2 linked regions of the Homo sapiens genome follow. The protein of the gene in region 1 interacts with the protein of each later gene in a pairwise test. Each region holds a gene or a part of one and is shown on either strand. Other genes may lie near its edges. The genes, in order: SEC23B and HOXA3.

The links.
Region 2: the proteins of SEC23B (region 1) and HOXA3 interact in binary tests that used the Homo sapiens proteins (3 or more experiments, as listed by UniProt).

Annotation. Positions count from the first base shown.
Region 1 is NC_000020.11:18,509,938-18,521,834, reverse strand, and holds part of SEC23B (protein transport protein Sec23B), read right to left. Parts: intron 11,014-11,897; 5' UTR 11,000-11,013; coding exon 10,779-10,999; intron 9,611-10,778; coding exon 9,553-9,610; intron 6,186-9,552; coding exon 6,099-6,185; intron 1-6,098. UniProt on the Homo sapiens protein: Component of the coat protein complex II (COPII) which promotes the formation of transport vesicles from the endoplasmic reticulum (ER).
Region 2 is NC_000007.14:27,146,861-27,159,659, forward strand, and holds the start of HOXA3 (homeobox protein Hox-A3), read right to left. Parts: upstream 5,724-12,799; 5' UTR 5,428-5,723; intron 4,822-5,427; exon of another isoform or gene 4,715-4,821; intron 4,091-4,714; exon of another isoform or gene 3,448-4,090; intron 915-3,447; exon of another isoform or gene 890-914; coding exon of another isoform or gene 448-889; exon of another isoform or gene 303-447; intron 1-302. Other genes in the region: HOXA6 (homeobox protein Hox-A6), read right to left, coding at 448-889; HOXA7 (homeobox protein Hox-A7), read right to left, coding at 8,049-8,362, 9,307-9,685. UniProt on the Homo sapiens protein: Sequence-specific transcription factor which is part of a developmental regulatory system that provides cells with specific positional identities on the anterior-posterior axis.

The sequences.
Region 1 (11,897 bases):
CCTAGTCTCTGCTCCCAATGCGACTCGTCCCAAATCTTTCTTCTTTCTCTCCTGTCTGTTCCTTCAGTCTCCACCCCAAGCTCTTAAGTCCTTTTAATCCTTTTCTACGGACTCATCTGACCTCTCCCCTTCTCCCCAGGTTGCTCCTCACCAGGCCAAGCTAGGTCCCAATTCTTTCTCAGCCTCTGCTCCCCCACCCTATAATCTTTCTATCACCTCCCCTCCTCACACCCGGCCTGGCTTACCATTTCGTTCCACGACTAGCCCTCCCCACTTGCCCAACAATTTCCTCTTAAAGAGGTGGCTGGAGCTAAAGGCATAGTCAAGTTTAATGCTCCTTTTTTCTTTATCTGACCTCTCCCAAATCAGTTAGCATTTAGGCTCTTTTTCATCAGATATAAAAACCCAGCCCAGTTAATGGCCCGTTTGGCAAAAACCCTTAGACGCTTTACTGTCCTAGACCCCAGAGGAAGGCCCCCAGAGGAAGGCCGTCTTATTCTCAATATGCATTTTATTACCCAATCCACTCCTGACATTAGAAAAAGCTCCAAAAATTAGATTCCAGCCCTTAAACCCCACAACAGGACTTAATTAACCTCGCCTTCAAGGTGTACAATAATAGAGTAGAGGCAGCCAAGTAACAATGTATTTCTGAGTTGCAATTCATTGCCTCCACTGTGAGACAAACCCCAGCCACATCTCCAGCACACAAGAACTCCAAACGCCTAAACCGCAGCTGCCAGGGGTTCCTCCAGAACCTCCTCCCGCAGGAGCTTGCTTCAAGTGCCGGAAATCTGGCCACTGGACCAAGGAATGCCCGCAGCCCGGGATTCTTCCTAAGCCGTGTCCCATCTGTGCGGGACCCCACTGAAAATCGGACTGTTCAACTCACCAAGCAGCCACTCCCAGAGCCCCTGGAACTCTGGCCCAAGGCTCTCTGACTCCTTCCCAGATCTTCTCAGCTTAGTGGCTGAAGACGGACGCTGCCTGATCGCCTCAGAAGCCACCTAGACCATCACGGACGCCGAGCTTTGGGTAACTCTTACAGTGGAGAGTAAGTCCGTCGCCTTCTTAATCAGTACAGAGGCTACCCACTCCACATTACCTTCTTTTCAAGGGCCTGTTTCCCTTGCCTCCATAACCGTTGTGGGTATTGACGGCCAGGCTGCTAAACCTCTTAAAACTCCCCAACTCTGGTGCCAACTTGGACAACATTCTTTAATGCACTCCTTTTTAGTTATCCTCACCTGCCCGGCTCCCTTATTAGGTCGAGACATTTTAACTAAATTATCTGCTTCCCTGACTATTCCCAGGCTACAGCCACACCTCACTCCCGCTCTTTTCCCCAGTTCAAAGCCTCCTTCGCATCCTCCTCTTGTACCCCCCAACCTTAACCCACAAGTATGGGATACCTCCACTCTCTCTGGCAACCGATCACACGCCCATTACTATCCCATTAAAACCTAATCACTCTTACCCCGCTCAATGCCAATATCCCATCCCACGGCATGCTTTAAATGGATTAAAGCCTGTTATCACTCGCTTGTTATAGCATGGCCTTTTAAAGCCTATAAACTCTCCTTACAATCCCATTTTACTTGTCCAAAAACTGGACAAGCCTTATAGGTTAGTTCAGGATCTGTGCCTTATCAACCAAATTGTTTTGCCTATCCACCCCTTGGTGCCAAACCCATATACTCTCCTATCCTCAATACCTCCCTCCACAACTCATTATTCTGTTCTGGATCTCAAACATGCTTTCTTTACTATTCCTTTGCACCCTTCATCCCAGCCTCTCTTTGCTTTCACTTGGACTGACCCTGACACCCATCAGGCTCAGCAAATTACCTGGGCTCTACTGCCGCAAGGCTTCGCGGACAGCCCCCATTACTTCAGTCAAGCTCAAATTTCTTCCTCATCTATTACCTATCTCGGCATAATTCTTCATGAAAACACCCGTGCTCTCCCTGCTGACCATGTCTGACTAATCTCCCAAACCCCAATCTCTTCTACAAAACAACAACTCCTTTCCTTCCTAGGCATGGTTAGGTACTTCTGCCTTTGGATACCTAGTTTTACCATCCTGACTAAACCATTATATTAATTCACAAAAGCAAACCTAGCTGACCCCACAGATCCTAAATCCTTTCCCCACTCCTCTTTCCGTTCCTTGAAGTCAGCTTTAGAGACTGCCCCCACACTAGTCTCCCTAACTCATCCCAACCCTTTTCATTACACACAGCCTAAGTGCAGAGCTGTACAGTCGGAATTCTTACACAAGGAACGGGACCGCGCACTGTAGCCTTTTTGTCCAAACAACTTGACCTTACTGTTTTAGGCTGGCCATCATGTCTCCGTGCGGCAGCTGCTGCCGCCCTAATACTTTTAGAGACCCTCAAAATCACAAACTATGCTCAACTCACTCTCTACAGTTCTCATAACTTTGAAAATCTATTTTCTTCCTCACACCTGACACATATACTTTCTGCTCCCCGGCTCCTTCAGCTGTACTCACTCTTTGTTGAGTCTCCCACAGTTACCATTGTTCCTGGCCCGCACTTCAATCCGGCCTCCCACATTATTCCTGATACCACACCTGACCCACATGACTGTATCTCTCTGATCCACCTGACATTCACTCCATTTCCTCATATTTCCTTCTTTCCTATTCCTCACCCTGATCACACCTGGTTTATTGATGGCAGTTCCACCAGGCCTAATCGCCACACACCAGCAAAGGCAGGCTATGCCATAGTATCTTCCACATCTATCATTGAGGCTACCACTCTGCCCGGCTCCACTACCTCTCAGCAAGCTGAACTCATTGCCTTAACTTGAGCCCTCACTCTTGCAAAGGAATTACGTGTCAATAATTATACTGACTCTAAATATGCCTTCCATATCCTGCACCACCATGCTGTTATATAGGCAGAAAATCACTACACAAGGGTCCTCCATCATTAATGTCTCTTTAATAAAAACTCTTCTAAAGGCTGCTTTACTTCCAAAGGAAGCAGGAGTCATACACTGCAAGGGCCACCAAAAGGCATCAGATCCCATCACCCAGGGCAACGCTTCTGCTGATAAGGTAGCTAAAGAAGCAGCTAGCATTCCAACTTCTGTCCCTCATGGCCAGTTTTTCTCCTTCTCATTGGTCACTCCTGTTTACTCTCCCACTGAAGTTTCCACCTATCAATCCCTCTCCACTCAAGGCAGATGGTTCTTAGACAAAAAAAAAAAAAAAAAAAAAAACCTCCTTCCAGCCTCACAGGCCCATTCTATTCTGTTGTCATTTCATAATCTCTTCCATGTAGGTTACAAGCCATTAGCCTGCCTCTTAAAACCTCTCATTTCCTTTCCATCGTGGAAATCTATCCTCAAGGAAATCACTTCTCAGTGTTCCATCTGCTATTCTACTACTCCTCAGGGATTGTTGAGGCCCCCTCCCTTCCTTACACATCAAGCTCAGGGATTTGCCCCTGCTCGGGACTGGCAAATTGACTTTACTCACATGCCCTGAGTCAGGAAACTAAAATACCTCTTGGTCTAGGTAGACACTTTCACTGGATGGGTAGAGGCCTTTCCCACAGGGTCTGAGAAGGCCACTGCAGTCATTTTTTCCCTTTTGTCAGACATAATTCCTTGGTTTGGCCTTCCCACCTCTATACAGTCCGATAACGGACCAGCCTTTATTAGTCAAATCACCCAAACAGTTTTTCAGGCTCTTGGTATTCAGTGAAAACTTCATACCCCTTACCATCCTCAATCTTCAGGAACGGTAGGACAAACTAATGGTCTTTTAAAAACACACCTCACCAAGCTCAGCCTCCAACTTAACAAAAAGGACTCTGTCAAGAATAGAGCCCAAAAACTCACCAACCAAACAAGTAATTACACTGAACTCCCTTGGACACTCTCTAATTGGATGTCCTGGGTCCTCCCAATTCTTAGTCCTCTAATACCTGTTTTTCTCCTTCTCTTATTTGGACCTTGTGTCTTTCATTTAGTTTCTCAATTCATAGAAAACCACATCCAGGCCATCACCAATAATTCTATACGACAAATGCTCCTTCTAACAACCCCACAACATCACCCCTTACGCCAAAATCTTTCTTCAGTTGAATCTCTCCCACTGTAGGTTCCCACGCTGCCCCTAATCCCGCTAGAAGCAGTCCTGAGAAACATCGCCCATTAATCTCTCCATATCACCCCCAAAATTTTTTCACTGCTCCAACACTTCACTATTTTGTTTTGCTTTTCTTATTAATATAACAACACAGGAATGTCAGGCCTCTGAACCCAAGCCAAGCCATCATATCCCCTATGACCTGCACGTATACATCCAGATGGCCTGAAGCAACTGAAAATTCACAAAAGAAGTGAAAATAGCCTTAACTGATGACATTCCACCTGTGATTTGTTTCTGCCCCACCCTAACTGATCAATGTACTTTGTAATCTCCCCCACCCTTAAGAAGGGTCTTTGTAATTCTCCCCACCCTTGAGAACGTACTTTGTGAGATCCACCTCCTGCCCACAAAACATTGCTCGTAACTCCACTGCCTATCCCAAAACCTATAAGAACTAATGATAATCCACCACCCTTTGCTGACTCCTTTTTCGGACTCAGCCTGCCTGCACCCAGGTGAAATCAAGAGCCTTGTTGCTCACACAAAGCCTGTTTGGTGGTCTCTTCACACGGACACATGAGATAATTATTTCCGATAAAAATGGAATAAAACTAGAAATCAATAACAGAAGAAAGCAAAAATATCAACATATATATGGAAATTAAACTCACTTTTGAGCATGCTCATGTTCAAGGGTTGTAAGACTTAATATTGTGAAGATGTTCATGCTGCCTAGTGAACTACAGATTCAATGCAATCCCTTTTCAATTAACAATTTTTTTTTTTTAGAAATAGAAAAAGTAACCAACAAATTATACGGAATCTCAAAGGACAATAAAGAGCCTAAAAATGTGGCCGGGTGCGGTGGCTCACGCCTGTAATCCCAGCACTTTCGGAAGCCGAGGTGGGTGGATCACAAGGTCAGGAGAACGAGACCATCCTGGCTAACATGGTGAAACCCCGTCTCTACTAAAAATATTAAAAAAATTAGCCGGGCGTGGTGGCAGGCGCCTGTAATCCCAGCTACTCGGGAGGCTGAGGTAGGAGAATGGCGTGAACCCGAGAGGCAGAGCTTGCAGTGAGCCGAGATCGTGCCACTGCACTCCAGCCTGGGCAACAGAGCAAGACTCCATCTCAGAAGAAAAAAAAAAAAAGAAAAAGAAAAAAAAAAGAGCCCAAAAATGTTTAAAAAAAAGAAACAATGTCACCTTTTCTAATTTCAAAGCACATTACAAAGCTACAGTAATAAAAACAGTTTAGTTCTGGCATAAAGACAGACAAGTTTTCCAATAAAACACAATGTAGCAGAAATGCAAACCTCCAACATATGGGTAAACAGTTATTTGAACAGCTATATTCATTGAAGCATTATTCACAAAGGCCAATATTTGAAAGCAAAACAAACTTTCCTCACTGAATAAATGAATAAATACAATTTGTAAAAAAAAAAAAAAAAAGAATTACTGTGGCTGCTGGGTGAAGAATAATGTATAAATAGGCAATGGTAACATCAGGGAGAACAATTAGAAGATTCAAGTAAGAAGGAGTGGCTGGCCCAGGGCAGCTGGTAGTAGGGAGGGGGAAGTGGGTGGATTCTGGATAAATTTCAAATATAGAGCCAATGGGATTTTCCAGTGAATTAGATATGGAACATGAAAGAGAGAGGTCAAGGATAAGTCTAAGGTTCTGAAGCTAAACAACTAGATGATGGAGTACCATCAACTGAGATGAAGAAGGCTACAGAGAACAGGTTTGGAATTTAATCAGTTCTACCTTTTTAGTAGCCTTCTATAATGTCAGGACTTGAAAACAATGCCAGTAGATGCACACACATCAAACCTAAAGGTTAGGATCCTGCTGCCCTCACAGCTTTAAGTCCCCTGCCCAGGTAAGAGACATGGAAGACAAAGGATTTCAAGAGAAATTCAGTATTTAACATTGCTCATTAAATGCACAACAAAGAAATTACCTGTATCACGTACTCAATTGTAGAAAACTGGGGCATCAATTCGGCAGGTTGATTCACCTCAGATATGCCTCCATAAGCTGGAGGAAACTGAAAAGAAGGAAACAGTTTTATTAGGGTTGGCATAACTATATTACACTTTTTATTTTCCATGTGTAAAAATGATAATGATGCCAAGACGAGAGGAACACTTGAGCTCAGGAGCTCCAGACTAGCTTGGGCAACACTGTGAGACCCTGTCTGTATACAAGAAGTAAAAACATTAGTTGGGCGTGGTGGCTCACACCTGTAGTCCCAGCTACTCAGAAGGCTGAGGTGGGAGGATCACTTGAACCCAGGAGGTTAAGGCTGCAGTGAGCCATGATTGCGCCACTGCACTCCAGCCTGGGAAACAGAGCAAGACTCTGTCTCAAAAAAGAAGAAAAAAAATGGTAATGACCATGTATTTATTCTGAAAGCACAAAATACAGGACACGTTAAAAAACATAAAAATCAGCATTTAAAACTTCTAACCCTGCCTTATATTTATATCATTTCTGTCCTCTTAAAAAATATTTTTTAGAGCAGTTTTAAGCTATTGTAACTTCTAAATGTTTAAAAGCACACTTTATGTTGCCCAGGCTGGTCTTGAACTCCTGGTTTCAAGTGATTTTCTCCCCTCAGTCTCCCAAAGTGCTGGGATTACAGGCATAAGCCACCATGCCTAGCCAAAAACACACAAATGAAAACCATTTCTTAAGTTTTGCCCTGCAAATTAAAGGCTGAGATTTCACCTATCTCATCAATAGTTAATAGTCTAAATAAAGCCAAAGACTTTATTTAGGTTTATTATTTTGGCTATTATCAATAAAGTAATACATACGGAATGTAGAAAAATTGGCAAGTCCAGGAAAATAGAAGCAAACAAAGGAGGAAAAGCCCCCCAAAATCCTATCACCTAGAAGCAGCTACTGTCAACCTCCTGGCAGATTTCCTTCCAGACTTAAGCACAGTTGAGAACATCCCATATATACAATGTGGAACTTGTTTTTTCCAGTCAACATAATGCCACAGGCATTTTCTTTTGTTTTTAAAACTCTCTGCAAATGTTTTAAATTCACAGCTTGTGGGTTGGCTTATAATCCAAATAGTCTTTAGCTTTACATTAAAAATACAAGTTGAGGTGCATCTCCCCAAAGTGAGCAGATGATCACTCCAGGCCAGTGACCTCAGAGTGACCAAATGCAAGTGCTGCTGAGGAGCTGACAGGCAGCTTTAGGGGCCTCTGGTTGGGAGAGAAGGGTACAACTGAGCTTGCGAGCCCCAGCAAGAATCTCAGTCAGAGCCAGCAGAAGACTCTAGCCCCATCCTGGCCATGACTGCCCACTGACTGCAGCTCCCAGCAGGGATAAGCTCGATCTATGACTACAGACACACCAGCCACCTCCCAGCAACCTGGAGAGGCCCTGTTCACCCACGCAGTCAGCCAGCTGCACAGAAGGGAGCAAAGGAGACGGAGATCACCCTGATCCCTCCGTCTTCCAGCTCTACATTCATTTAGAGCTAGAAAACCCCCACACTGTCCAGCTAGGAAGGTTACAAAAGATTATTTCCACTTAGGACACATAGACTTGCAGATCATACTTATAAATTGGCAGGTGACAATCTTAGGTAAGCATAATAATACCAAATACTTATATGGCACTTACCATGTGTCAAGCACTGTTCTAAGTCCTTTATACTCATTAACTCAGTTTAATTCTCACAATAATCTCATGAAGTGACTATAGGTATACTATACTATCATCCTAATTTTAAAGACAAGGAAGTTGAGGCACAGGCAGTTAAGTGACCTACCCAAAGTTACACAGGAAATAAGTGGTAGATCTGAGAGCCAAACCCAGGCAGTCTGGCTACAGATCTCTGGCTCTTTAGCCACTATGCTACCCTGCCTTAGAATTACTATAATAAATTATATTAAACAAAGACATTAATCCTAAATGTAATAGGGAGCAGAAATGCTTTTAAGATTTCTATATACTTCTGAATCTCTCATGAAGATATATTTTAAATGACATCTGCTTATAGTTTCCGAACCTATGGTCAGTCATCAATTGTACACTGTCCTCTTCATCACTAGACTTATATGCTGTATCTGAGAATGAGTAATTGTAATTATGATCAAATATATGAACGAATGCATGTGAAGAGCTTAAGATCTGTTAGAACAGTGTACACTATGCTGGACACAAATTTTTTCTAACAACTTTATTGAGGTATAGTTTACGCAACATAAAATTCACTCATTTTAATTATACAAGTCAATGATTTTTAGAAAACGTACAGTTGTGCAATAATTACCACAATCCACTTTTAGAACATTTCCACTACAGGCACAGTTACTTTTTTTTTTTTTTTGACACTCTTGCTGTGTTGCCAGGCTGAAGTGCAGTGGCGCAATCTCAGCTCACTGCAACCTCCACCTCCCGGGTTCAAGCGATTCTCCTGCTTCAGCCTCCTGAGTAGCTGGGACTACAAGTGCGCACCACCATGTCCAGCTAATTTTTTATTTTATTTTGAGACGGAGTCTTGCTCTGTTGCCAGGCTGGAGTGCAATGGCTCAATCTCGGCTCACTGCAACCTCCGCCTCCCGGGTTCAAGCGATTCACCTGCCTCAGCCTCCTGAGTAGCTAAGACTACAGGTGGCTGCCACCACTCCTGGCTAATTTTTGTATTTTTAGTAGAGAGGGGATTTCACCATGTTGGCCAGGATGGTCTTGATCTCTTGACCTCATGATCTGCCCGCCTCAGCCTCCCAAAGTGCTGAGATTATAGGCGTAAGTCACCGCGCCCGGCCTAATTTTTGTATTTTTAGTAGAGATGGGGTTTCACCATGTTGGCCAGAATGGTCTCGATTTCTTGACCTCATGATCCACCCACCTCGGCCTCCCAAAATGCTGGGATTACAGGCATGAGCCACTAGGCCTGGCCGCACAGTTACTTTTATAGAGAAGTCTCTCTTGTGATTTGTGAGCTCCTTCTAGTTTGGTACTTTTAAAATTTTTAAATCAAAAGAAGCTCAACACTGATACCTGGACTCTAAAAGTTAGAAAGATCAGAAAATGAAAATTCAGTAATATACACTATCCAATCAGAATATACTGAAGTCAAGAGAAATATGAAAAACAGGTGCTTTCTTTGGGTCACAGATTCACTGCCTACAGAAAATGTGTAAGAAAAGGGAATTCAATGAACACCCCCTCCCCAGCCCCAAGCAAATGACAAGGACTCAAGAAAACCACTCAACAGAATAAACCACAAATGTTCAAATTCAATATTGTGCTTAACAAAAGTTATCACCCTGAGTTCAGCAGAAACTGCTCACTGCCAGTGTAAACACAAATTCAACCTAACTTAATTTTTTTCATAATACAACTAAAATAAAACATATAACATTTTTTAAAAATAATTCACATACCTGATTTCTTTGAAAACAGAAATTACAGGCCCAAAGTTTTGCTCGATAATCAACCTGACTGTGAGAAAGATAAATATTATAAGTAGGTACCACTTTTATTTTTAAAATAAAATTTTTATTTTTAAGGTAGAAAGCGTTCATTTGTAAATTTCAAGTTCAGTAAATCACACAAGTAAGTGTTTCTATGTGTATGCATAAGTATGAGTATGCAAAACGTTCACCGCAGTTAGAATTCTGGCTAAGTACACCACAATTTCCATCAAACAGCCACAGTGAAGAAATACTAAATCTTTTTCTCTTTTCCAATTTCCTAATTTTTTAAATGTCATGATTTATATAAATTATACATTATTTCTCTCTTGCCTTTTATCTTAACATACTCTTCATGATTTTTTTCTAACATCTTTATTGTCCGGCTATGTGAAACTACTAAATTCCAACATTAAAAGCATATTTCACACACAGGAAAATGCTTCTAGATTTTTAACCTGACTTAGCCCATTTTAAGAAAAGTTGGGCAAGCACATTTCACTTCCTCAAATTGGTTCAAGATAATGCTTCAGTTACTTTTCCCTTATTTTCTACATTTAGAAAATTAATAACCAGTGGCTATGCATTCACATATGGGCACATTAAATAAAAGCAATGAGAATGAAGTAAAAAATGTTCCCTCATATAAAAATTTTATGACACTCTCTACCTGTTTAAAAATCATTTCAAATAATGCCCACATTTAAAAGAAATAGGTCACTATCTCAGGCACAAAAAAAAAAAAAATTACACTTAACAAATTGTTAACAGTTAAAATTTCTTCTGCCTGCTACTTCTCCTTGCCATATAGCATCACTGTACCCGGGAAGCATGAGAAGACGGTCTAAGCTTTCGAATTCTTCTGGGAAATTACTTTAAGAGGAATCAATAAAGTCTACAGTTAAGCCAAAAGCAAACTGATTATCAGCCAAAAAAAAAGTGAATTACAAATCCTCTCCCTCTACCTCTACCTCATTCCTGTAAGATTCCAATTTTATCTGGAATTATCAGGCCAGGGAGATTTCTACAAATATTCACCACTTACTACTCACCACAAGAATCGTTTAGGAGTCTCATCATCTACTACTTATCACAAATTTGATGACCTGCCCAAATTTAATGACTTTTATGAGCATCACATAAAATTCATAATATATTGTATTTATCATTTTTACCAGTTTCAAAAGAATCCATACCAAAGTGGGTTGAGAACAGCTTTACAAGTTGGCCTGCTGCAAAGCACAGGTTCATATTGTACAGGAGGTAGGTCTGGACGTTCTTTCAAAGGAGTAAGGAGACAAGCCAGGGGTACAACCATTCTTGTAGCCTCCAGCCGGCTGGAAGGCCACACGTTCCAACTAAAACGCACACCATCCCGTTCTTCATTCTGCTGGATGAACTCCAGGTATGTCGCCATAGTCTAAAAGGGAACTGAAGATAAAACTTTAATTACCTTAATGGTATGTGAAATTCTGAACTAAATGTCAAAAAAAGAAGATGGGTCATGTAACACAGTGTTTCTCTTTTTTTCCCATCTCAGCTCACTGCAGCCTCCACCTCCCGGGTTCAAGCGATTCTCCTGCCACAGCCTCCCAAGTAGCTGGGATTACAAGCCTGTGCCACCAAGCCCGGCTAATTTTTTGTATTTTTAGTAGAGGCAGGGTTTCACCATGTTGGCCAGGCTGGTCTCAAACTCCTGACCTCAGGTGATCCACCCGCCTTGGCCTTCCAAAGTGCTGGGATTACAGGCGTGACCCACTGTACCCGGCCCAACTAACACAGTGTTTCTTAAATACTTGGGAAGAACCTGTTGCTGTAGAATGACAGTATTTCTTTTCCATCTGATACCCAAAAGTCAGTTAACCGCACAGTTATCATTGATCACTGCTCCTTTCTCACCTCTCCTTTCAAGCACTTAAAAATAAATCAAAGGAGTGGGAGGTTTACAATCACCTGATCATCTCCAAACTACATGTAGTTAAACACTACTACTTCAAACCTCCTCACAGATCACACGTCCTATCAGTCAAGCCAATTTCAGCCCCTTGCTCAAGGGTAAGTCTTGAACCCTGTTTCGGCATCCAACTATCTTCCTCTCTAATCTCCTTCCTTTCTTCCTCTATTAAATTTTACATTCCAAGTGATTTTTTTTTCAGTAGCGGGGGGGTGCTCATTCCCTTCCGCACTTTGTTAACTTTGGAGAAAAGAGCTGGATACTGATCTTCAAGTTTGGTTCATAATGGGAACCAGTTTTGAGCTAAATTATTTCTACTTGGTATTACCAAAATTACTATTATGCTGAGTCTCACCAGAAC
Region 2 (12,799 bases), on another chromosome or scaffold:
GGCCACCTCTCTGTACGGGTTTCTGAAGGGCAGAAAGGAGAGGGGGTTGGGAAGCAAAGGGTATTTATCAGTGACGCAGTGCAAAAGGCCCTCTGGCTTGGGAAGCTGAGCAGGGTACTCAGGGTGCATGGACAGGCTGTCCCTCCCCACCAGCCTCTCTCTCTCTTCAGGCTGTCCCTGTCACAGGTCTCATATACGTGCCAGTGCCCCCATCCTCCCCTAAGGTGTCAGCTTACATGGACACTGGGGCCTTGCCCTTCCTCTGCCATGGCCTGATAGCCCCATTGGGAACTGATTTTTTCTTCTCTTTTAAGAAGCCAAAGAAACTTTGCTGGTTCTTTCATCCTTTCTTTCTCTCTATTCCTCTTTCTACTCTGTTTCCTCCTTCTTTCTTTCTTTTCCTGCCTCCTTTCCCCTCTCCCTCCACTGTCTTGGGATATGTCTTACCCGCGCAGGAGTTCATCCGCTGCATCCAAGGGTAAACCGGGCTCGTGTACTTCCGGTCGGCGCCTTCGTCATGGAGTGCTTTGCCCTGCCCGCTGCTGCTGTCGGGTTTGTACTGCTGCTCGGGAGAAAAGTGCAGGTAGTCCCCGGGGCCCCTCTGCTTGCCACTGCCCGAGGGCGAGGCGCCACTGAGGTCCTTATCAGAATAGAAACACGAGGCCCCGTACTCGTAGGACGCCCGGTTGCAGGCCAGGACCGAGTTGGACTGTTGGTAGAAACAAGGTGAGGTGTACGTCTTGTCCGGGAGACTCGACGCCCCGTACGAGGCCGGGAAGGGCCTCAGCGCGTCATAGCCAGCCTGGTAGAGGGGCAGCTGGCCCAAGAAGGAGTCCTGGCCGCTGGGAAGGCTCCCGGGGAAAGTGGGATTCACAAAATAGGAACTCATTTGCGCGCCCCTCTGCAGGACTGTGATTTGTTGTGTATTAGTACATCTGGCTATAACTATTAGTAGTCATCGAACTGGTTTGTTTCTGGATGGCCGAACGCCAAAAGCGACAGCAGCAAATCGCACCAGCTGACGCGGCGGCGGCCAATGGGAGCGAACGCCGGAGCCCGCTCCCCGGGGACCGCGGCGACCGAGGCAGCAAAGTTACAAACAGCCCCCAGCCCGCCCGCCCGCCGCCCGCCCGGCAGATTAATGGGCGCGCACAGCTAGCCGGCCCGGCTCTCTTCCCGAACGCCAGCGGCGGGCACGGCCCTTTCAGTGGCGAGCAGATCAGGCCAGAGTAGGGACACTAATGCTTGGGCCGCCTCAAAGGCCCCGCCAGGTCCCCTCCTTCCTCCTCCCCTTTTTGCTTTATTGAATTTTGCGGGTTCCCCGCCCCTCCTCCTCCAAACAGGAAACCTGAAGGTCCTGCTCCAGGAGGGGCAGTGACAAAGGTGGCTTTGCTCCCTGCCGGCCTGCACTCCAGGCACGGCCCAGAGTTGCCCCTCCCCTAGCGCTCCCCTATTCGTGGGTGCGAGTTCTTGAGCTGGAGCAAGGGCCATGAGAAACCAGGCCTTCACTCTATGCTCTTCACTCGTGCGCCTTAGGAATCGGTGAACTCCCTCATTCTCTCCTTCTCCGCTAGCACCAGGGGCCTGGGCCTTGCAGCCCAGAGCTGAAGGATCACCTCGAGCTGACCAGGACTCAGCCAAACGTAGGTTCTTCCCACCCATTCCCTCCTCCCACATACACATCCTGTTTGAGTCCCAAGGGGCTCAATGGCCCGCGCCTGCCTGGTGTCAAAGCACTCCTTCCAGCTGGGCGTCCCCATCCCACCTTTGAACCCAGGGAATTGAAAGGCCAGAAACCACTGGTTTCAACAAGAAAGGACCGACAGAGCAGTGGCCGTGAGACTGGGCTCCTAAGACAGCCGAGGGACCTGCTCCCCTGCCTAGCGCCTGGGGACTCAGCATCCACTGCGAGAACCGCTCAGAGCTGAGGCAGATAAAAATCCAGATGTGGAATCTCTCTGTCCACATTCCAGAGGCACAGAAGACGCAGAGGCCCTGGCCAAGCTGGGCACAGAGGGCAGCTCTGCAGGGCCCAAGGCCGCGGGATAATTGATGGGCTCGGTTTCCGGGGCGCCCGACAACCGGCACTGTCCTGGGGCCGCCCTCTTTACTGCCCTTCCTGGGACCGCAGGGAGGGCTGCCGCCCCTCAGTCGCTCCGGAACCGGGAATAGTCTCACCGGCTCCAGAAATCCTGAATTGCTTTCACTGCTGTCCCAGGCCTGGCGGTCCCCAGACAGGACATTAAAAGCCTGTCCTGAGCTGCTCACTCTTGCCTGAGAGGTGTGCCTTCGAGATAGTTGACTTTTACAACACATGGATCAATCTCGTTTTGTAAAATGTGATAGCAGCCCAATGGCATTTTTACAACTGTGTTTGTTGGGCTTGTAAAACCCCTTGAATTAGCTTTAAAATCCTCAATTCTGTGGAGGTTGAAGAAAGACTATTTACGTGATTTGGATGGATTTCTGGAGACTGTTTACAAGATCTGTAAAACCCTGGCCAATGCAGGCTCACCCGGTTCAGGACTTAGTGGGGAGGTGGCAATTGGCAGTGTTCCAGTAGGAATCTAGTAATGACTTAGTCTCTTCCTTGCTTTTCAATTTTTTTCCTGAACTCTCCTCCCACAAAGGGAAAAAATTGGGAAAGGACTGGCCTAAGGTCGACCTCCGAAGAGCCCAAGAGGCACTCCTGGAAGGCGGCTGCTAGCCCGGCAACGGGGGCTACCCCTGGAAGCCGGATGCCTGTTCCCCAGTCGATCCGTCCTGGAAAGGGTTTACTTTGCATATAAAGCAGGGCCTCGAATGAGAGGATAGAATTGGGCATTTCCCACACATTACTTCAGGGAAAGAATTCAATAGGTGAAAATGAAAACTCGAGTCAAAAAATTAAAAGGGACTTTTAAAAATAGCTGTTTGAAGAAAAACATGTTTGTGTTATTTTTTTCTTAAACAAAATTATCAGACAACAGTGATTTTAAGCAAGTTATTATTTAAAATGAAAACAACCGTTTGGAGATGACAATCAATGTTTACATTTATGATTTCCTTTTCATTCCGCCATGTCCCACATAGTGGTGGGTCAGTGTCAATTTACTATTATTATTATTTGTCATGCCTTGACCAGGATTCTCGATCTAATTATTGTTCCAGCTAACAAGAGAATTTGATTTCTCAGCTAAGAACCAGAAAACATTATATTTCTAGCTTCTATAGGCACTAAGATGGAAAAACATATATTACATTGGAATCTTTACATGTTAGCCAAGGCTAGTGCATATCATTTCTCCAACCAGATATTCTCTCTCTCTCTCTCTCTCTAGAGAGAGAGGGCTATTCCGGCAAGAATAGGCACCCCAGACCCTCCAAAGGGCCTCTCCTGCGATGGTGAGAATGGCCACCCCAGGGCTCTCTCTCCTCCCTGCCAAAGCCACGCAGAAAGCGACTTACCTTTCAGTTTCTCTCCAAGGGGGGCAGGACGGCGAGCTGGGCCCCACTGTCTGCCCTTGCCCTGGGCTGCCCATTGAACAGCTCCACCTCTGCCAGCCTGGAGGGTGGTCTGGGAGTATGTAGGTGTGGGACCTTGAAGGCCACCTCGGTCCAGCCAGCTCGCTAGCCCAGACCAGAGCCCAAAGCACACAGGTGCGGCCTCTGCCCTTCACAGCCCTCTCCTGGAGCCAAAGCCGTCCTTCTTTGCCATAGCCAATCCTCCTCAGAGCAGCCAGGCCTACAGGCCTCAGGACTACAGGTAGTCTCTCCGATTGCAGAATCCCAAAGCCAGAGTGTTCCCTGAACCAGCGTGCGCCCCCAGAACGCCTTGGGACGCGCAGTTTGGACAGAAGCAGCCATGACGTGCCAGGCGGCCTGTGCAACCAGTCTCCATGGTGCTGGAGTGGGGGTGGGGGAGGACCCGAGTCTATAACGGCGTCCAGCTCCGGTCAGGGGTAGCCGAGGCGGGGAGATTTCCCGGCCATATAGGCTCTGGGTGATCGCCCCCCAGGTCCCCTTGCGTCCCCCTCTACCCTGCTTGCTGGGAAATCTCTGAGGGGCCAGTACAGCAGTCGCGCCAGGCTGCAAGAGGCGGGCTGCAGCTGGCGCCGGTCCCGGCGACGGCCACGGCGTGGCAGCAGCGAGCGCCAGCACGGTCGCAATAAATAATCGGCCCGCGGCAGCCGCAGTCAGGAAGGCGGCGGACCTAGGATGCAAATGCGCCGCTTTATCCGCCCCGAGCGCACGCAGAGCACGGGCTAACGTCCTAAACATCCACAGCCCCTTCCTATTTATCGAATCCATACCAAGATATTGTCTCAAGTTGGGGAAACAACAACCCAAACAAAAAACAAACAAAAAGAACCTCGGACTCTTTTCTTGTCGCTGTCCGAGGAGTTCTCGGGGCAAATCTGGTCTGATGTGCACTTAGGCCGAGCTACAGTTCGAGCCACCGCGCTACGCAAAGCCACCGCCAGCAGCACGCTCTGCGCTTCCTCCCGGGCAGCTCCACCATCCTCTCCCCGCTCGCGGAAGGTGGGGAGTGCGGTCGCCAGTCCGTTGCGCCAAGGTGGATTGGGGGGTCCCCCTATCGCCCAGACTCGGTTTGCGTCCTTCCTTCAACCTTAGCTGCGGGACCCTGCCACGCGCGCTAACAGCATTATGTCCTCTGCACCGAAACTTCCCACCAAGTAACACCCAATTAATCCCATCCTCTCCTCCAACACAGAATTCCACCCACGCACCTATTCCCCCTCCCAGCGCTTCAGACACCTCTCTCATCGAAAAACCGGGCGAAGGGAAGCCGGCAACGAGCGGAGAACTCTGGCTGAATTAGTAAGTTTTTCTGTTTCCCCCTTCTACCTTTCTCTCTGAAACCAATTCCCACGGAGTAGAAAGTGCTGTGCTGATGCTAATAAAATGCCTGTGGATTAATGCACTTTGCCCTCACCTCTTCCCACCTTCCCAGGTCAAGGATGGTCTCCTCTTGTTGGGGAATCCAACAAAACCAAATAGGGCCATGAATGAAAACACAAAAATCCAAACCCAAAGGGCTGGCGGGGAACACAGTGTGCCGGGCCACTTCCTTTTGGGCTTCACGGGGTCGCTAGGGAAGGGGAGAGAGACGACCCAAGGGATGCTGCCCTGTGCCTTGGCGCTGTGCCACGGAGGGCCGAAGGAAGGCGGGCACTTACTGCCAAGGCGAGCCAGGGAGGGGAGAGAAAGGGAGTGGTGTGTGTGTGTGTGTGCGTGCGCGCGTGTGTGCCTGTGTGTGTGACGTGTGTGGGCTGTAGTGTGTGATGGGGGCAAGTGTGAATGGGTGAGTATGGGTAAGGGGGAGTATGCCCCTCTTAAAGCCTCCCTGGGTGCCCTCTCCCACCGCTACCGCCGCCGGCTGTCGCCTCACCACCTTTGCTCCTATCTCCTCCCCACATGTCTCACCTTCAGACGGTGGCTCCCAGAAGCTCCTGCCCCTCTGACAGCTGTCGCTTGGGCAGCCCGAGAGAAGAATTGTCCTCTTTCCTGGTGCCAGAGGACGCAGGAAATTAGCCAGGTTGCGAGTTGCAAAGCTGCTGCCGCGGCGCCGGGAACGGAGCGCGCCCAATCTCCAGCGGGAGCCGCCAGGCCTGGCCTGGCCGGGGCTTCCCTTCGCTCGCCATCTCCGGACAAAGCACAGCCGAGCCCGGCTGGAAGGCAGAGCTCCGAAGCAGGCAGGACGGAGCGGAGCAAAAGAATGCGGCTCTATTCTCGCAAGGGAAATTATAAAAAAGTTCATGTTCACGGTTCTCATCCACATGACCGACAGCGGCCAATGGAAGGGCCGAACAACTCATAAAGTTGTATTGCAAAGTTGTAAATTTTCATAAACAACAACGGATTTATGACCCTTTCCCCATCACTGAGAGGAGGCAGCTCTTACACCGGCGCCATCTTACCACCGAGGCCGCCCCGACTTGGGGCCTCAGGTTTTACAGACCCTTTTGGGCCAGGTTTTACTAAAAGAGCCATAAGAAGCGGGCCCAGCCCAGGCAGGAGACTGGAGACGAGGTCTTGCAGGCGGAACTCAGGATGCTCTGAGCTGCCCGCACAACCCCTGGACCTTCACCCCTCGCCCCTTCCCCGCATCCAGCTGCCCCAGCCCCTGCCCAGGCTGCGTAGCCTAGCGGGGGTCTGCGGTCCTAGCCCCTCCCCGCGCCACCTACTGCAGTGCCGGACCCTGGGGCCCCCTCGCCTGGTCTGCAGGCGGGGTGGGGACCTTAAATCCCATTTCCTAGCCTGGGGCTGGGTTCAGGGCGCATGCGAATCCGGAATCAGCTCTGGGTAATGCCCCTTTCCAAGCCCACTGCTCAGCCTTAGAGGAAAGTGTGGATTTGAAATTTCCTCATGGAATTGATGGAGGTTTTTAGGTAGATTCATAGAATATAACGTATCTACCAAAGATTCCGTTTTCAAGGGATCTAGAAGATGTTAGTGCACACGCAAAAACCAGACAAACGTCTCTACACGGATAAAGGCACATATACAATTATGCACACAGGGAAGGGCATACACTCTATTGTGGGCACAGAATGACATGCAATTATGGACACACAAAAACACATGCACCCAATTATGGACACCAAAATATATACAATTGTGGAATTAGGTAAAAACACACACACAGAAATACATACACAGAAAAATAAGCACATACTCATACAAATACACACATAAAAATACATTAAAAAGATACATGACACCAATACATGGGTACCCAACACTTGGACCATCACAAGGACAGCCACCCCACTTTTGCTTCCCCACTGCCCCCTGCCCTCCAGCCATACTCACCTCCCCTTTCCCAGTCCCCTCTGGATAAGGCAGTCCACATTTTTCTTTGTCACCACGCATCTTTATTTTCGGTTACATAAAACACAGCTGGGCTGGGAAGTGTGCCTTCCCTGAACCCCAGGATGGAGCTGAGCAGGGTACAGGACAACACAGGAGATGAAGGGCATTGCGGAGGGCATTGGACCTCCCCACCCACTACAGTTAACTCAAGACAACATACCATGCTACAAAGTCACCCCATTAACACATCCTTTCCAAGTCAAGACACTGCCTTACAAATGAACTCCAAGACTATAGAAATGATAAAAAAAAATCTTGTTCAAATATACAGTATCTGCTATTATAGGAAACATCAGGGCGTACATATTTAACACAGCTGAACAGTAAGATACAGGAGCCAGAGGAAAGGACAGCGAAGCTGGAAGCATCTCCACAGTCCTGCTAAGCAGAAGCTAACCCACAGATCTGCAGCCAGCTCAGGAACATTCCCCTCCAGAAGTGGGGGTTGATGGGCCTGAGCTGTGGGTGCCAAGCCAGAGAAGGAGGGATTGATTCTAGGGTGCAAGCACTTAGGATGCTTTTTGGAATAAATATATTATTTTTCGATTTAAATAGATGCCAATACCCTGATCCTGGACCTCAGCACATTCTCAGGGCAGCCTCAGGGACCCCAAAAGCTGCGGGCTGTAAGCAGCAGGGGACTTGCCTGGGAGCAGTCGGCACTAGGTAGCAGGCAAGCCAGCCAGCACAAAATAGGTAGTTTTAGGGGAGTAGGTAGTAGTGAGATTCACTTTCTTGCGGGTCTGGGAGGGTGGTGCTGGGTGTCTGCCAGTGTTGGGATACATAGGGACTTCCTGGGAATGGAGGCCCTCTGGGGCTGGATACATAGGTAGTTTGGGGGTGCCTCGAGCAGAGGCCTGTGCTAGGTAGTATTTTGGACGCGCCAGAGCAGGGCCGGCTGGCCTGGGGTTGGGGGTGTCTTTTGGGGTCCTCGGAGGCAGAGGGAATCCAAGGCGACCCAGTCTCTGCGGCCGCTCAGTCCACAAAAGTTGGGAGCTGGAGTAGGTGATGGGGGTGGGTAGAGTGCAGGTTGGGGACTGGGTTGCTTTTTTGTTTTTGTTTTTGTTTTTTACATTTTCTTTTATTTTTCCCATTTTTGTAAGTAAAACCAGTGAGTCTCTTAAAGACGCTTTTCCGACTGTCCGGTGCAGAGAGGGCCCCGGATCGGCCCCTCATTCCTCCTCGTCTTCCTCTTCTTCATCATCGTCCTCCTCGTCGGCCTTGTCCGCGGCAGCAGTGGCGGCGGCAGAGGGCACGGCGCCCTCGGGAGCTGCGGCGGCAGTCGGACCTTCGTCCTTATGCTCTTTCTTCCACTTCATGCGGCGGTTCTGGAACCAGATCTTAATCTGGCGCTCGGTGAGGCAGAGCGCGTGGGCGATTTCAATGCGGCGGCGCCGCGTCAGGTAGCGGTTGAAGTGGAACTCCTTCTCCAGCTCCAGCGTCTGGTAGCGCGTGTAGGTCTGGCGGCCCCGCTTCCTGTCAGGTCCTGAGAACAGACATGCAGACACATGAACACAAGGACAGACAAGTAGACAGGGCACTCGTTAGGCTGCTGTCCCAGAGCCCGCACCTTCCTCCTGGCCTAGTCCCCAGCGAGCATCCCCCTCTGCCCCAGGCCCCGAACTGAGCTAGGGGAGGAGGGGGAGTGTTAGGGAAAGACCCCAACTGCAGTGCCAGACGCGCAGGCAGCTCTGTAATGAGCAAAGGCACAGAATCTCAACTTTACAACCGACCTTTCCAGCCGGCTAAGCTTCCACAATGTCCTGCTTCCTCTGACAAAGGAAAACTGTAAATATAGAGTGTGAGCAAGTGGGAAACGCTGCACTTTTGCCATTCAAAGATGAGCCCGGCCATTCCCCTGCCTTGCTAGGCAAGTGGGCGACTCTTCCCAGCAGCCTGAGCCCTCATCCCCAGGACCTTCCTAGGGCACCCCGACCCTCTGTCCTCATTCCCTCGCCCCCATCTTGAAATGGACCCTGGCACAGGGTCGGGTGAGAGGCCCTGGAGGGCTTGGCTCTCCTAGCTTTTGAGAAAGAAATGTCAGGCAGCAAGGAAAATGAGGAGAGAGAGAAGAAGAAAGGGAGGGAGGGTGACAGAGGAGGGAGAAAGAGAGACAGAATAGCGAACAAACTTAATGTTAAAATTCCAAGACAAATGGAGTTAAATAAATTTACGAGGATCGAACCCATTAATTGGGCCATAAAAAGTTTTATGAGCCTCATTTACATACAATGCTATGGGCTCCACGCAATGGCGCCTCCGCTCCAATTAAAACCAGAAAGGCTGCGCCGGGAGTCACGGGGCTACCGGCTCGCAACAGCCTGGCTCCGCTCTTCCGGCCCCGCGCCCCGCGCTCCGCGCTCCCCAGCGCTGCGCTCCCCGCTCCCGGTCCCGCTCCGCCAGCCTGGCCCGCCTAGCGACTGCGCCTACCTGAAGACCGCATCCAGGGGTAGATGCGGAAATTGGCCTCAGCCGCGCCATGCAGCGCGCCCTCGTCCGTCTTGTCGCAGGCGCCTTTGGCGAGGTCACTGCAGAGCCCGGGGATGTTTTGGTCGTAGGAGGCGCAGGGCAGGTTGCCGTAGGCGTCGGCGCCCAGGCCGTAGCCGGACGCAAAGGGGCTCTGATAAAGGGGGCTGTTGACATTGTATAAGCCCGGAACGGTCGAGGCGAAGGCGCCGGCGCCCGCCCCGTAGCCGCTTCTCTGTGAGTTGGGAGCAAAGGAGCAAGAAGTCGGCTCGGCATTTTGGAACAGAGAAGCCCCCGCCGTATATTTGCTAAAAAGCGCGTTCACATAATACGAAGAACTCATAATTTTGACCTGTGATTTGTTGTCCGGCAGCTTTCAGTGTCGGTTTTACGAGGTAGAGTGATATATGATAACATTACACCCCCAGATTTACACCAAACCCCATTTTCTTTTGGACGGAGCTCGCCGCAGCACGTGACCGCCCACATGACCGCCTCCGCCAATCTCAGCAGTCCTCACAGGTGGTCTCGCTCCGCAGGGCCCGCAGCCGCCTAGAATGGAAGGGCAAGAGGCTCAAATATGCGGCCAAAGAATCCGCCCGCGCCCGGCGGGCCTGGCGCGTCCCGCGGAAAAAGACCTGGAGGCTCCGCGGGAGCGCCCAGCTGGCGGCCAACCTCCGCACTGGGGTCTGCGGACGCCAGGCGGCCCGGCCCCACGCAGCACCCCCCACCCCGCCCCCCCGCCGACTCCTGCTAGTGAGCCCTGGACCAAGCTTGGGATCCTCCCCATCCCTCTCCTGTCCGCCTGCCCAGACCCTGGAAGGGTCTCTGTCCCCCGCAACAGCCTGCCCCGCGGTGGCCTTGTGGGCAGGACTCAGCTATGAGCAGATCGACTCTGCCCAAGTCTTCTCTCACCCAGGTCCAGTGGGCGACAGGCCGGACTTAGACTCGGATCCAGACGGGGAAGGCGCAGCATCTCTTGCAGCTGCAGAGAGATTGCCACCGCAAACTGGAGCCATGTGGTTCGAATAAAGTCAACGTCTCCCAGCTTCCTTTCCTTAATCGGAGGCACACTGTTTATCCGCCCTAAAGGAAGCAGTGAAATATTTATCTATTAATGAGACTCATTTGCCAACAGATTTATTAACGTGGGGTTCCCCTCCCTCCTCCCGGACGCTGTAGTGCTGCAGGCTCTGTGCCTTCGCTCCTGGGCACCTGGCTGGCTCCAGCAGTCCGATAAATTGCTAAAGATTCCTTTGTCCTTTCCACAACTTCTGGTTCCCCTCTGGCGCATGGGGAGCCAGGGCTGTTTCCCCCAGCTTGGAAAAATCTCGGGCCTGCACCCTTCCAGGCACTCCCAATACTGGAAGGTTTCTGGGGTAGGCCGGGGTGCCTGGGAACAATACATGCTTTAGAGCGGATTTGGAGAGGGGGCTCTGGCGTCTAGGGACTGCAACCCACTGTGGACTTCCTTTTCTTTTGAAGACACCGAAAACAAATAGGGGAAACCACCCCCTAAAGGCCACCCAGCTGTGGAGGCTTCACCTATCCAAGTACCAGCTCACATGGAGCTGAGCGCACAGTGGTCTCACTTCCTCCCATCCAGGCCTCCAATTCCTACCTTCCAGGCCTCCGACCCCTGCACCATGTTGCACCAGCTGAAGCCCCTGCCGCCCACCGCTCGGTGGAGGATGGTGGGGAGAACCCTTCCCCTAAACGCCTCATAAACTGCCCGGCTGCGCTGGAAGCCCGGCCACCTTTTACTGCTCAGCTCGATTACACACCATAAACCCGACCTCACAATGGAATTGCCCCGGAAATTCTCCTGTAAATTGTAGAGTTTAGTTCCTTGTGTACTGAGCACTTCCCATCACTTTCAGAGGGTCCAGGCCGTCCCCGTTTACCGCACCCTCTCAGGGGGCCCCAGGAATACAAAAGGTGGAGGGAGGGTTCAGATCGGGACGCCACGGAGCCCCAGTTCCTGCGCAGTGAACCACCGGGGCTTGGGTAGGAAGGCGGGGGCTGGTGGGGCAGGTGGGCGCTGGGCTGTCTCCTCCCGGGCCACGGAAGCCTGGGGGTAGGGGTGTGGAGTGAGGGACAACATCCGGGGACGCCTTTATGGCGGATCAGATGATACCTTGTCTCCGATGGAGAATAGAGGGAGTAAGACAAAAAGAAAAGACCTAAATAATCCCAGTCGCATCGCCTTCTGGAAGGAAATAAAAACCCAAGAAAGTTAAAGGAAGATGAAGCAAACAAGAAGGCTAGGAGATCAAAGAGGCAGAATTAGACCGTTTTAGACCAATAAATTTTTCCTGGGGTGACACACAGCAAGACGCAAAGAGAAAAGACCAAGGCCCCCGCCGCCGCCGTCTGTCTAGACTCAAGCGACTGAAGGGGCCAACAGAGCTGGTGTTTAAAGTAGAACCTGCCCAGTCCAACAGCCCGAGCAGGGAGCGATTTCGGGGATCGCGGGAAGGAACGCACTTCGCCAAGGGAGGGCCGGGTGCCCTCGCCACCGGCTCATTCCTGCTCCGGTTTTGCCCGATGCGCGTCCAGGAGGTTCTGGCAGGACGCACTGCCCCTCTGCCCCGGCCAAGGAGGATGCGGATACTGCCCGCAAGGCTTCGGCCTTTATGGACCCAAGTCAGCCAACTGGGCCGAGTCCTGCGGACACCGAAACCTCCCTTTCGTTTCCAGGCTTCCTTCTCCCCTCTTGCCCTCTGTGGTCTGATTTAAAACGAAAAGGTCGGATAAAATCAGGCTTTCAATAAGGCTTCTTTAACTGTGTGTTCTCTATTCATTGGTTCTCTACTTATTTGACTGAAAAGACACAAATGCACTAGGTTATGTGAGATAATTTTCACAGAAATACTCATTGACCCTCAGCCTGAAGCAGGCACATGTAGGCGGGTTTCTAATCAGTAGAGCTATGTTTAGATAGACATTTTCCACTGCCGTCCCTGAGCTTCCTTCCTACCTACTGGCAGAGCGTGTTCACTCTGCTTCTTGTTACCAAATACCAATATTTAAATTCAATTATGAAGGTAAAGCCAGCTCTAGGCAGGGAACAGCGCCTTCCAGAGATTTGGGTGGCAGGCAAATTGCTTCCTAAAGGTTTCCACCCTTGCCTCTCTCACCAGCTGCATCTGTTCCCCATCCAGTGAGTGAGTGATCCCTAGCCTGGGTGCAAAGACAAACTCGTACCTGTCGTGTACAAATGAGATTGGGTTGGTGCGGGGTCTTGCCTGGGTGAAGGTCCGCAGCGGGGAAGCCACTCCCAGGCTTCCCAGAGGAAAAGCAGACTCCCAGCCACCAGCCTGCCAAGGGCAAGGGAGGAGCCTTTGGACAGTCCACCCAGGCCTGGGAGACCCTGGGCGGCCTGCACCTACCTGAGGCCTCCGTGATCAGTGGAGAGACGCAGTCGCCACCGATCTGTGACTTCATTTATTTGTAG